Homo sapiens: one gene and its partner. The protein of the gene in region 1 purifies or fractionates together with the protein of each later gene. This does not show direct contact. Each region holds a gene or a part of one and is shown on either strand. Other genes may lie near its edges.

Region 1 (5,558 bases):
AGAGCTTGCAGTGAGCCGAGATCGTGCCACTGCACTCCAGCCTGGACAACAGAGCAAGACTCCGTCTCAAAAAAAAAAAAAAAGGAACCATCCTTATATATCCCTTCCAAGGGAATGAAAAATAAGACCCACTTACGAATCTTCTGGTAAAAGCTCTGGACCATCTCCCTACAGAAATACAGAAACACACATGCAAATATAGTTTTACATTCCTTCTTGGACTCCTTGGAACCCTCCTGAGGACCCCAGGTTAAGAACCCTTGTAATAGACAATTGAAGAGTGGTATTATTAATGCCTTCGGCCTCTTTCAGCTGCCAGCAAGGACAGGGTAGCACACTGTACTCACCTCATCTGAGTGAGACTCTTCTTCCTCTTCCTTCCCCACTTCTTCCTCAGGCTCTCCACAGGGGCTGGCTGGTATATCTGCCAGGTAGGTTCCTTGGGGTATTTCTTCACCCTCTGCTGTATACACAAGCTCTTCCTGCTCCACAGTCTCTGAGTCCTCATACTCAAAAGGCACATTGCCGTAGCGCCGGGAGGAACCTGTCTTGGGGAACTGGAGCTGCAGCTGGGTGATGATCCGAGGGGGTAGGCGGCAGGCCCGGATCAACTCCAAAAAGACCCGCAGGGGAGTCCCCACATTCCCTCTGGGCATCAGCACTGGTGGGTTCAGCTCCGGCAGTTGCTTCAGGTCAGCCAGGGTGAAGGCTTCATTCTCTGCCTTCCAACTCTGCAGTTCCTTCCGGGTCTTGAAGGGAAAGGAGCCCAGACCTTGGAAAGGAGGGAGAATAGATCTTGAAACCCAGAAGCCTCCAGCAACACTTGAGCCAGAAATTGGCCAATGTTTAAATCTGTTAGCCTTTCCCTAGTAAACATCTAGTAAATCCCTAGTAAAAATCTAGGCCGACACAGTGGCTCACGCTTGTGATCCCAGCACTTTGGGAGGCTGAGGCAGGAGGATTGCTTGAGCTCAGGAGTTCAAGACCAGCCTGGGCAAAATGGTGAGACCCTTATCTCTACAAAATATAAAAAAATTAGCTGGGAGTGGTGGTGCACCCTGTGATCCCAGCTCCTTGGGAGGCTGAAGCAGGAGGATTGCTTGAGCCTGGGAGGTGAGGCTGTAGTGAGCCAAGATTGCACCACTGCACTTCATCTCGGGCGACAGAGTACCCTGTCTCAAAAATAAATAAATAAATAATAAAATAAATCCATTAGCCTCATGCTGTTCCTCCCTCTCAAACTTCTCCAGGTCTTTTCATCTCTCCCCAAGCGGAACTACAGAACTACCTAGTAGTTTCATGTCACTTCTCATCACCTTGGCTGGGCATACAAGTTTCTTCCAGCTCTGGCTCCTGATGAACTTTTTTTTTCTTTTTTTTGAGACAGATTCTCACTCTGTCACCCAGACTGGCGTATGCAGTGGTGCAATCTCAGCTCACCGCAACCTCCGCCTCCCGGGTTCAAGTGATTCTCATACTTCAGCTTCCCAAGTAGCTGGGATTACAGGCATGTGCCACCATGCCTGGCTGATTTTTGTATTTCTAGTACAGACAGGGTTACGCCATGTTGTCCAGGCTGGTCCTGGCCTCAAGTGATATCTACCCACCTGATGACCTTTTGATTCTCGGCTGTCACCAACTCCCACCTCCTGCATGTCTTCATACGATGTGTTCCAGCCACACCAAACAATTTTTCTCCTAATTTCTTTTTTTTCTTCTTTTTTTTTTTTTGAGATGGGGTCTCGTTCTGTCACCCAGGCTGGAGTACAGTGGCGCGATCTTGACTCATTGCAACCTCCACCTCCTGGGCTCAAGTGATCCCCCCACCTCAACCTCACAAGTAGCTGGGACTACAGGCATGCGCCACCACAACCGGCTAATTTGTATTTTTGGTAGAGACAGGGTTTCACCATGTTGCCCAGGCTGGTATGGAACTCCTGAGCTCAAGAGATCCACCCACCTGTGCCTCCCAAAGTGCTGGGATTACAGGCACGAGCCATTGCAACCCAGCCCACAATGAACAATTTAACATGCCCTGAAAGTTTTTCACGGGCTTTCAAAGCTGTGTCTTTGCAAACGCCATTTACCCTGAAACCCAGAAACACCATTCTCTCCTATTAACTCCTATTTATTTTTCAAGACCCAGATGGAAAGCCACATTTCATGATCCATCTAGGAAGTTAGTTTCTCCCTTCTCTGTCATCTCACAGCACTTGGTGATAAACAGTATAGGCTCTGGAACAGATGCCTAGGTTTGTTGTAGCTCTGACACTAACTAACTCTGTAACCTCAGGCAAGTCACATAACTTCGGCTTCCCTCAGTTTCTTCACCTATGAAATGGGAGAAACAACAGCTCCTATCTCATAGGACTGTTGAGAGGGGTAAGAAAACAAAAGGCTTAGAACAGCGCCTACTAAATACAGAGTGCTCAGTGAATGCTAACAATTAGAATGACATCTCTGTGGCAATAACCTTTTTCCAAATGTCTTCCTTTGTGGATTCTGAGCACACACTATGTCCAACTGTTCTCTGCATACCCAGCTAGTCACACTAGGTCTAGCAATGTAAGCATTTGTTGAATGTGTGAACTGGAGGGCTCTGCACTGTCCTGTTTCCCCATCAAACTGATTTCCCATGAAAGTGGGAGCTGTCCAGAGAAAAGATTGTCTCTTCATTTGTATCTTACTGAAAGGACTGGGTAGGAAGCACAGAGAGAGCAGGAGAGAAAGACAGTAAAAGGGTTAGAGACTGGATTTCCTTTTTTCTTTCTGTGTTAGTGCAAAATCAACCCCTTGGATAGAGAAAGGGTCTCAAAAGGGACCTAACAAAATGAAGGCTCTTCCGAATAAGCCTCTCCGGTTTATTTTTCTCCATGTATTGGACTAACTCCCTGCAAGTTGAGCCTGAAGCTCTGTCTAGAATATGAACTAAACTCATAGAGTCCTAACCAGAGGCCTGACTTATCCTCACCACTCCTCTGAAAAGGTGCCTCTGTTCCAGGCCCGTAGGCCCAGTCTATTAACTTTCTCACTCTTACCTGATGCCTCCGTAGGTAGCCGAAGTCTGCGGATGAGACAGCGACCCGGTAGCCAAGTCCCGTGAGAATCCAGCCACCGGCGGCCCGAGTACATGCGAATAAGCCTCTGAGCTTGAGCCAACCCCCTTACCGAGATGACGCAGCAGCAGGTGCGGGTCTGGATTGGAGTAGAGTCTCGAGTGGAGAGAGGCCGGACATCGGTGGCCGAAGTCTGAGAGAGAAGCTGGCCCTCAGCGGCTGGGTCGGTAGGAATTAGGGCAGAGTTAGGAGCGGCCTGCGGAGGGGCCCGCTCAGGCCGATGCCGGTAGTGGAAACAGAGGAAGCCACCGCCGCGCTCTTCTCGGAACTGGCTAAAATAGCTCCGTAAATGGGCCGAGCGCAACACGGAGGGGATACCGCTCACTACCAGGTAAACTGTCGCCTCCTCCTCCGCCTCGCCGGGCACCGCCATCTTGGATTGTCACATGATCAGCTAGAACCAAGTCTCGCGAGAACACCGCGAGCAACGTTCCAGCCCCTGCGTTGCGAGATTGTGAAAATTCTAACTAGTCCTTTGGGATTGGGGTTGTGGAACCTGGAGCTGGAAGATCCGAAGTCTTCTGTGTTCCTTTCCCACAGAGGGAAGCCGGCGATGATGGAAAAACTCACCTGGAAAATGGGGTCATAGAGTTCTTTCATAAAGCTCTCATGAGGACCAAATAAGAAGCCTGCGGGAGGGGTCATTTTTGAGGTATTTAGTTGTGGATATTGCACACCTAATCTCAACCTTCCTCAGTTCTGAACCTTTAGTCGTTCTTCCATTTATTTTTCCAAAATGTGTTGATGAACTCCCACAAATCGGTAAGAAAAAGATAACCCGGTAGAAAAATGGGCCGAAGATACTTCGCAAAAGAGGAAACACGCAGGTCCAATTTACAATGAAAGTGCTATGAGTTACTAGAGGCTTACGTTAAAGAAAAGATGCACAACTCAATAATAAAAGAAATGCAGCGAGACCCACTTTGCATCCACTATGTTGGCAAACTTTAAAACCTTAGAGTCGATGACAACATGGTGGAACTGAAGCTCTCATACACTGTTGGTGGAAATGTAAGTTGATACAACCACTTTGGGAAACAATTGGCGTTATCTAGTAAAAGCAAAGCTACACATCATTTGACTCAGCACTTGTAGGTAATATTTTATTTATTTTTGAGTTGGGGTCTCGCTCTGTCGCCCAGGCTGGAGTGCTGGGACCACAGATGCAACCCACTATGCCTGGCTAATTTTTTAAACTATTTGTAGAGATGGGGTCTCACTGCATTGCCCAGGCTGGTATTGAACTCCAGGGCTCAAGTGATCCACTGGCCTCAGCCTCCCAAAGTGTTAGGATTACAGGTGTGAGCCACGGTCCCCGCCTTTTTGTCTTTTTTTTTTTTTTTTTTTTTTTTTGAGATGGAGCCTCGCTCTGTCATCCAGGCTGGAGTGCAATGGTGCGATCTCGGCTCACTGCAACCTCCGCCTCCCGGGTTCAAGCAATTCTCCTGTCTCAGCCTCCCGAGTAGCTGGGACTACAGGTGCGTGCCACCACGCCCGGCTAATTTTTGTATTTTTAGTAGAGACGGGGTTTCACCATATTGGTCAGGCTGGTCTCGAACTCCTGACCTCAGGTGATCCACCCGCCTTGGCCTCCCAAAGTGCTGAGATTACAGATGTAAGCCACCGCACCCGGCCCTCTTTGTACGTTTTTTAATTGGGTTATTTGATTACTATTGATTCATTGATTCATAATTCAGACAAAGTCTACACATTATACTGGGTGATAGGAGGAACCTGTAGATTGAGAGACCTCAAACAAAAGCAAAAAATAAAGGGCCAAGCTCAGTGGTTCACGCCTGTAATCCCAGCACTTTGGCAAGCTGGTGTAGGAGGATCCCTTGAGCTTAGAAGTTTGAGACCAGCCTGGCCAAGTTGGCAAGACCCTTGTCTAAACAATAAAAAAAATGACTGCACATGTTTATCAGAAGACTTATTGATAATGTTGACTTTTACCCAAGCCCTGTGATCCTGGAAAACTAAGGCTTAAGAAATGCCTTCCCACTGTTTTGTGTTCTGGAACACAGCATATTGCAAAAAAACATCCTTCCCCAAGTGAGTTAGGTAAGACTGGTGTATGCCCCTCTGGTTCACCAATGACAAAGCCAGACACAGACTCCATATTCCAAATCTCCTCATGAAAGCTTTGAGGAACTTCTTGTCCCCACTGATCAGTTGGAACAAACTTTGGTTAAAACTTCTCTCCTTCCCCCAGCTTCCCGAACTTTGGCTTACCCTCAGCTTGAGCCAGCGCACATCTCCTCCTTAACAGCCTCTCCTGAGAATAGGCTGGCTTCAAGGTAAAGCATTATCTGATCTACTGTCCCATCATGCCACTCCTGATCATCCCACTTCCTCCCACCCAGTTCTGCCCTGTTTACTCCTCTGTATGAGAGAAGAACCCTTTTTGCCTAACCCTTGAGTCACTTGCAGATATTATGGTCA
Region 2 (4,408 bases), on another chromosome or scaffold:
TAGTTTCCTCAGTGACTTTTATATTCCATTTAAACTCAATTAACAATCTTTTGGATTGCAGACATAGTATGGGAAGGAGGTGCCAGCAGCTGAAACATCACTGTGATGAGGCTATCTTGGATTATTTTACCCTTCATATTTTCAAGAAAATAGAAACTTTGCATCTCTCATACTGCCATATTCTTACCATTTGTTTCTAGGAGAAATTCCAGATGCAGCTTTTATACATGCTGCAAGGAAAAAGCGCCAAATGGCCCGAGAATTGGGAGATTTCACTCCTCATGATAATGAGCCTGGTAAAGGCCGCCTTGTTAGAGAAGATGAGAATGATGCCAGTGATGATGAAGATGACGATGAGAAACGCCGGATAGTTTTTTCTGTGAAAGAAAAGTCACAAAGACAAAAAATTGCTGAGGAAATAGGTAACTTGATTTAATTGAATAGTAAGCCTATTGCATTGCCTTTTTTTGTTTGTTTTAAGGCAGGGTGTCATTCCATCACTTAGGCCAGAGTGCAGTGGTACAATCATAGCTCACTGCAGTGTCTTGACTCGTGGACTCAAACAGTCACCCTTGTCTCAGCCTCTCGAGTAGCTGGGACTACAGGTGTGCGTCACCACACCTGGCTAATTTTTTTATTTTTAATTTTTTTGTAGTTATGGGGTCTCACTGTGTCTGGTGTCTTAACTCTTGGCTTCAAGAGATCCTCCTGCCTTGGCCTCCCGAAGTGCTGGGATTACAGGCATGAGCCACCATGCCTCAGCCTCCCAAAGTGCTGGGATTACAGGCATGGGCCACCATGCCTCAGCCTCCCAAAGTGCTGAGATTACAGGCATGAGCCACCATGCATGGCCTCTAATGCTATTAAATGTGATTTGATATTATAGTCAAGTAAAAAGTATTTAGACTTACTAAATTTTATGTTAGAGGACTATTCTTGGGTACAAGTGTTTTATTGGAATTTTTAAAAACTAATATCATTGTGATAACTCATGTTCATTGAACATTTATTGTGCAGCTGGTATTGTGCTTAGCAGTTTACATGCGTAAATTCATATAGTTCTATATTCCTAGGAGGCATTAGATTTTGTTCCCTTTGTTGATGTCAAGTTTACAGAGATTAAGAAACACATCCAAGATTTTAACTATTACATTAATACTGCCTTTAGCTTCAAGGAATACTGTGTTTAAAACAGGCAAAGTCAGGACTACCAAATGAGAGAGGAGATCATATTAGACATTTTAGTAAGATTGAGTTAATAGTTTTGCTCAGTTCTTGTGAAATGTCAGGACAGCATCTTTTACCTCTTTGCTCTTTGGGTGTTACTTACTTTTCTTTGTTGCTCATGGCTGTAGGAATTGAGGGGAGTGATGATGATGCTTTAGTAACTGGAGAACAGGATGAAGAGCTCAGCCGATGGGAACAGGAGCAGATAAGGAAAGGAATTAATATCCCTCAGGTACGACAAAAGAATTAAACTAAAAATTAAAAGTAGATTAAAAAGCCTTTTTTATTTTGTTAAAGTAAAAAATTCCGTATTGAATCTTTGTCATTCATTTCAAGTAACAAAATCCCATGAGGAGACACACACACACACACACACACACACACACACGCACGCACGCACACAGAGACACGTAGGCTTTTAGAAGAAACTGCAGTGTGTTCGGCTTTTTGCAGTCAGAATGATGGAGGAATTTCCAATTTCTTAGATGAGTTTTTCTCAAAGTGGTCCTTCAGTTAGCATTAGCATTACCCGGTAGCTCATTAGAAACGCAAATTACCAAATTATCAGCCCCCAGAGACCTACAGAGTCAGAAGCTTGGGGTGGTGGGGCCAGCAATCTTTGTTGAACAAGCCCTCCAGGTGATTCTGATGCACACTAAAGTTTGAGAACCATTGCTTTAAATGGAATGTTTTTGTGCGTGTAGCTTATTTTTTTGGACTTTAAGAATTATTTTGAAGAAGATGGATTTCTCAATAATACAAAAAACTTGAGATCGATGAAAAATATCTTCCCAGTTATAACAATTTGTTTTATAAAAGTAAGTAATACAGTGAGAAAAATTGCATAAACGTAAACCTATTTTTGTTAATAGTGTTTTGAGGCAGAATTCGCATACATTTGGGTGAAGTTAAGAAAATGGCACAATAGAGAAAGTCTTGGACTGGATGTCAGGAGTCTTAGATTCTAATCTCTGGTTGCCCATTGATTCTGTGACCATGGGCAAGGCATTTATCCTCTTTCATTGATCAAAGGTGGCCTTAAATGATTTTTGATGTTTCTTCCAACTCTGAACTCTGTTTTTCTGAAAATTATTAGAAATAAATTTAGTGATTCCACCAAGAGATAGGACATTCATTCAATCCTGCTTTTATCTAATTTTGAAGAATTCTGCAATTATTACATAATATTTGGCAAATAGGTATAATTTTTGCTGTTGATTTTTTAACCCTAAAGGCATATTATTATTTTCAAAGTTTTAACTACCAGATTTCATCTATATCCCATTTCTTTTCTAGGTTCAAGCCAGTCAACCCGCAGAAGTGAATATGTACTACCAGAACACTTACCAGACAATGCCTTACGGCTCATCCTATGGCATTCCTTATAGTTATACGGCCTATGGATCATCAGATGCCAAATCTCAAAAAACAGATAATACAGTCCCTTTCAAAACTCCCAGTAATGAGATGACTCCCGTTACTATTGATTTGGTAAAGAAACAGCTTAAAGACAGGTAGGGCAGATCAACTTCTTAAAGACCTGTCCGCTAGCTTTCTGTTCCCTCAGGCAACATGTAGTCTGGGGTAGCAGATGCAGAATATCAGCAAAGAAGATTCACTGGCCCAGCTTCAAAAGCTAAACAGAAGATGACTTCATACTTTGTTCTGCTACCTTCTTGGATTACTTCTGTGGAAGCCTCGAAAAATTATAAAAAATGCCACTCCATGATCTTGTTGAAGACATTTCTGAGTTTGTACCTCTTGGACTCTGAAAAAGTGTAGTCACGCTATGGGGGGAAAAGCAAAACAGTGAGATTTTGGTTAGCCCACAAAACTGTGAAATCTGTAAACTGCCATTTTTTGTTTTTTGAGAAAAAAAGCAGTACAGAGGAAAAGATGCCATTCCAAATATTTTTATGTTCTAATAGTGGAGCTAAATGCATATTTTAATATTGCAAGAGTCCTGACACCATAGACCTTTGGATGTAAATGTGTTATATTTATCCTTTTGTGTTCCTAAGGTTGGACTCCATGAAAGAATTGCACAAAACAAATCGACAGCAGCATGAGAAACATCTGCAAAGCCGAGTGGACTCTACCAGGGCTATTGAAAGATTAGAAGGGTCTTCTGGGGGTATTGGTGAACGGTATAAATTTTTGCAAGAAATGCGAGGGTATGTCCAAGACTTGCTTGAGTGTTTCAGTGAAAAGGTAAGAATGCAAAAATACTAATCTCTTTGAATAAGGCAAAATTAGGGAGGTCTAGATGGCCTTGTGTAGAACATTCTATAATTCTCAGAAAGTACCCACTGAACTCAACATTAGAAGTGATGAAAAGTCATGCTTCATTTTTCTTCACTTCATTAGTGGCATTATCTCTTAAGGGCAATATAATACCTTTGTTGAAAACAGAAATAAAGATAATATCTTAAAGCACATTTAAATAAGACTTTGGAAAGTCTTATTTCAATATGGTGGTAGATTATTATTGGCCTGTGCTGAATTCTTAGAATATAAGGGACTCATCTGATAAAATTTTCTTTTCTGGTTCAGGTTTAAACTTATTTTTAAACGTTTCTACAAGCAATTCTAAATATGCATATAAAGTTGCAAATTTTTATTAGTTTTTTTTTTTTTTTTTTTTTTACCCTGGATGATGATTACCATTGTTGCTAATAGTTTTTATCTAAGTAAGCCTATGCTTGATTTCTTTCAGAAACCATTTCATTGGATATCATTTTTTCTAAGGTTTCATTTCTCCCAAGTTTGTTTTTTTCAATAGGATAGTCAGTTGACAAAATGTTTGGCATTCTTATACTATTTATTGTTTACATTTAAAATTAGGTGCAAACAGCTAGTTTCTCAAATGACCTCCTAATTGATTTTTTTTCTTTAAGATAAAAGTATTGGTTGAGGCACTGGTTTATAAGCATTTGTGGACTTTGCAGCCTTATCTTTAAAAAAAAAAAAATTAAAACTGTGGTCCTTAAATATCCTGTCTGAACTTTGGATTGGAAGGCACATTTCCCTTTGTTATTGGCTATGTAGATTAGCTTAGAATCTGTAAGCATATAGTGTGGTTAAATATGTATTTCAACTTTTGTTATCTTTGTTGATTACTTGAATACCCTAAAACCAATGGCTGGGAAAAGATCATTGCCAGACTATGTCTTCCTGATGG

The links. The genes of interacting proteins can lie anywhere in the genome.
Region 2: the proteins of GPATCH3 (region 1) and PAXBP1 purify together in Homo sapiens (affinity purification with mass spectrometry; one large-scale study listed by BioGRID and IntAct). This does not show direct contact.

Annotation. Positions count from the first base shown.
Region 1 is NC_000001.11:26,896,954-26,902,511, forward strand, and holds the start of GPATCH3 (G patch domain-containing protein 3), read right to left. Parts: upstream 3,515-5,558; 5' UTR 3,490-3,514; coding exon 3,039-3,489; intron 773-3,038; coding exon 348-772; intron 169-347; coding exon of another isoform or gene 137-168; intron 1-136. UniProt on the Homo sapiens protein: Involved in transcriptional regulation. It is able to activate transcription from the CXCR4 promoter and therefore it might control neural crest cell migration involved in ocular and craniofacial development.
Region 2 is NC_000021.9:32,758,110-32,762,517, reverse strand, and holds part of PAXBP1 (PAX3- and PAX7-binding protein 1), read left to right. Parts: intron 1-200; coding exon 201-422; intron 423-1,355; coding exon 1,356-1,459; intron 1,460-2,523; coding exon 2,524-2,741; intron 2,742-3,248; coding exon 3,249-3,438; intron 3,439-3,829; exon of another isoform or gene 3,830-4,408. UniProt on the Homo sapiens protein: Adapter protein linking the transcription factors PAX3 and PAX7 to the histone methylation machinery and involved in myogenesis.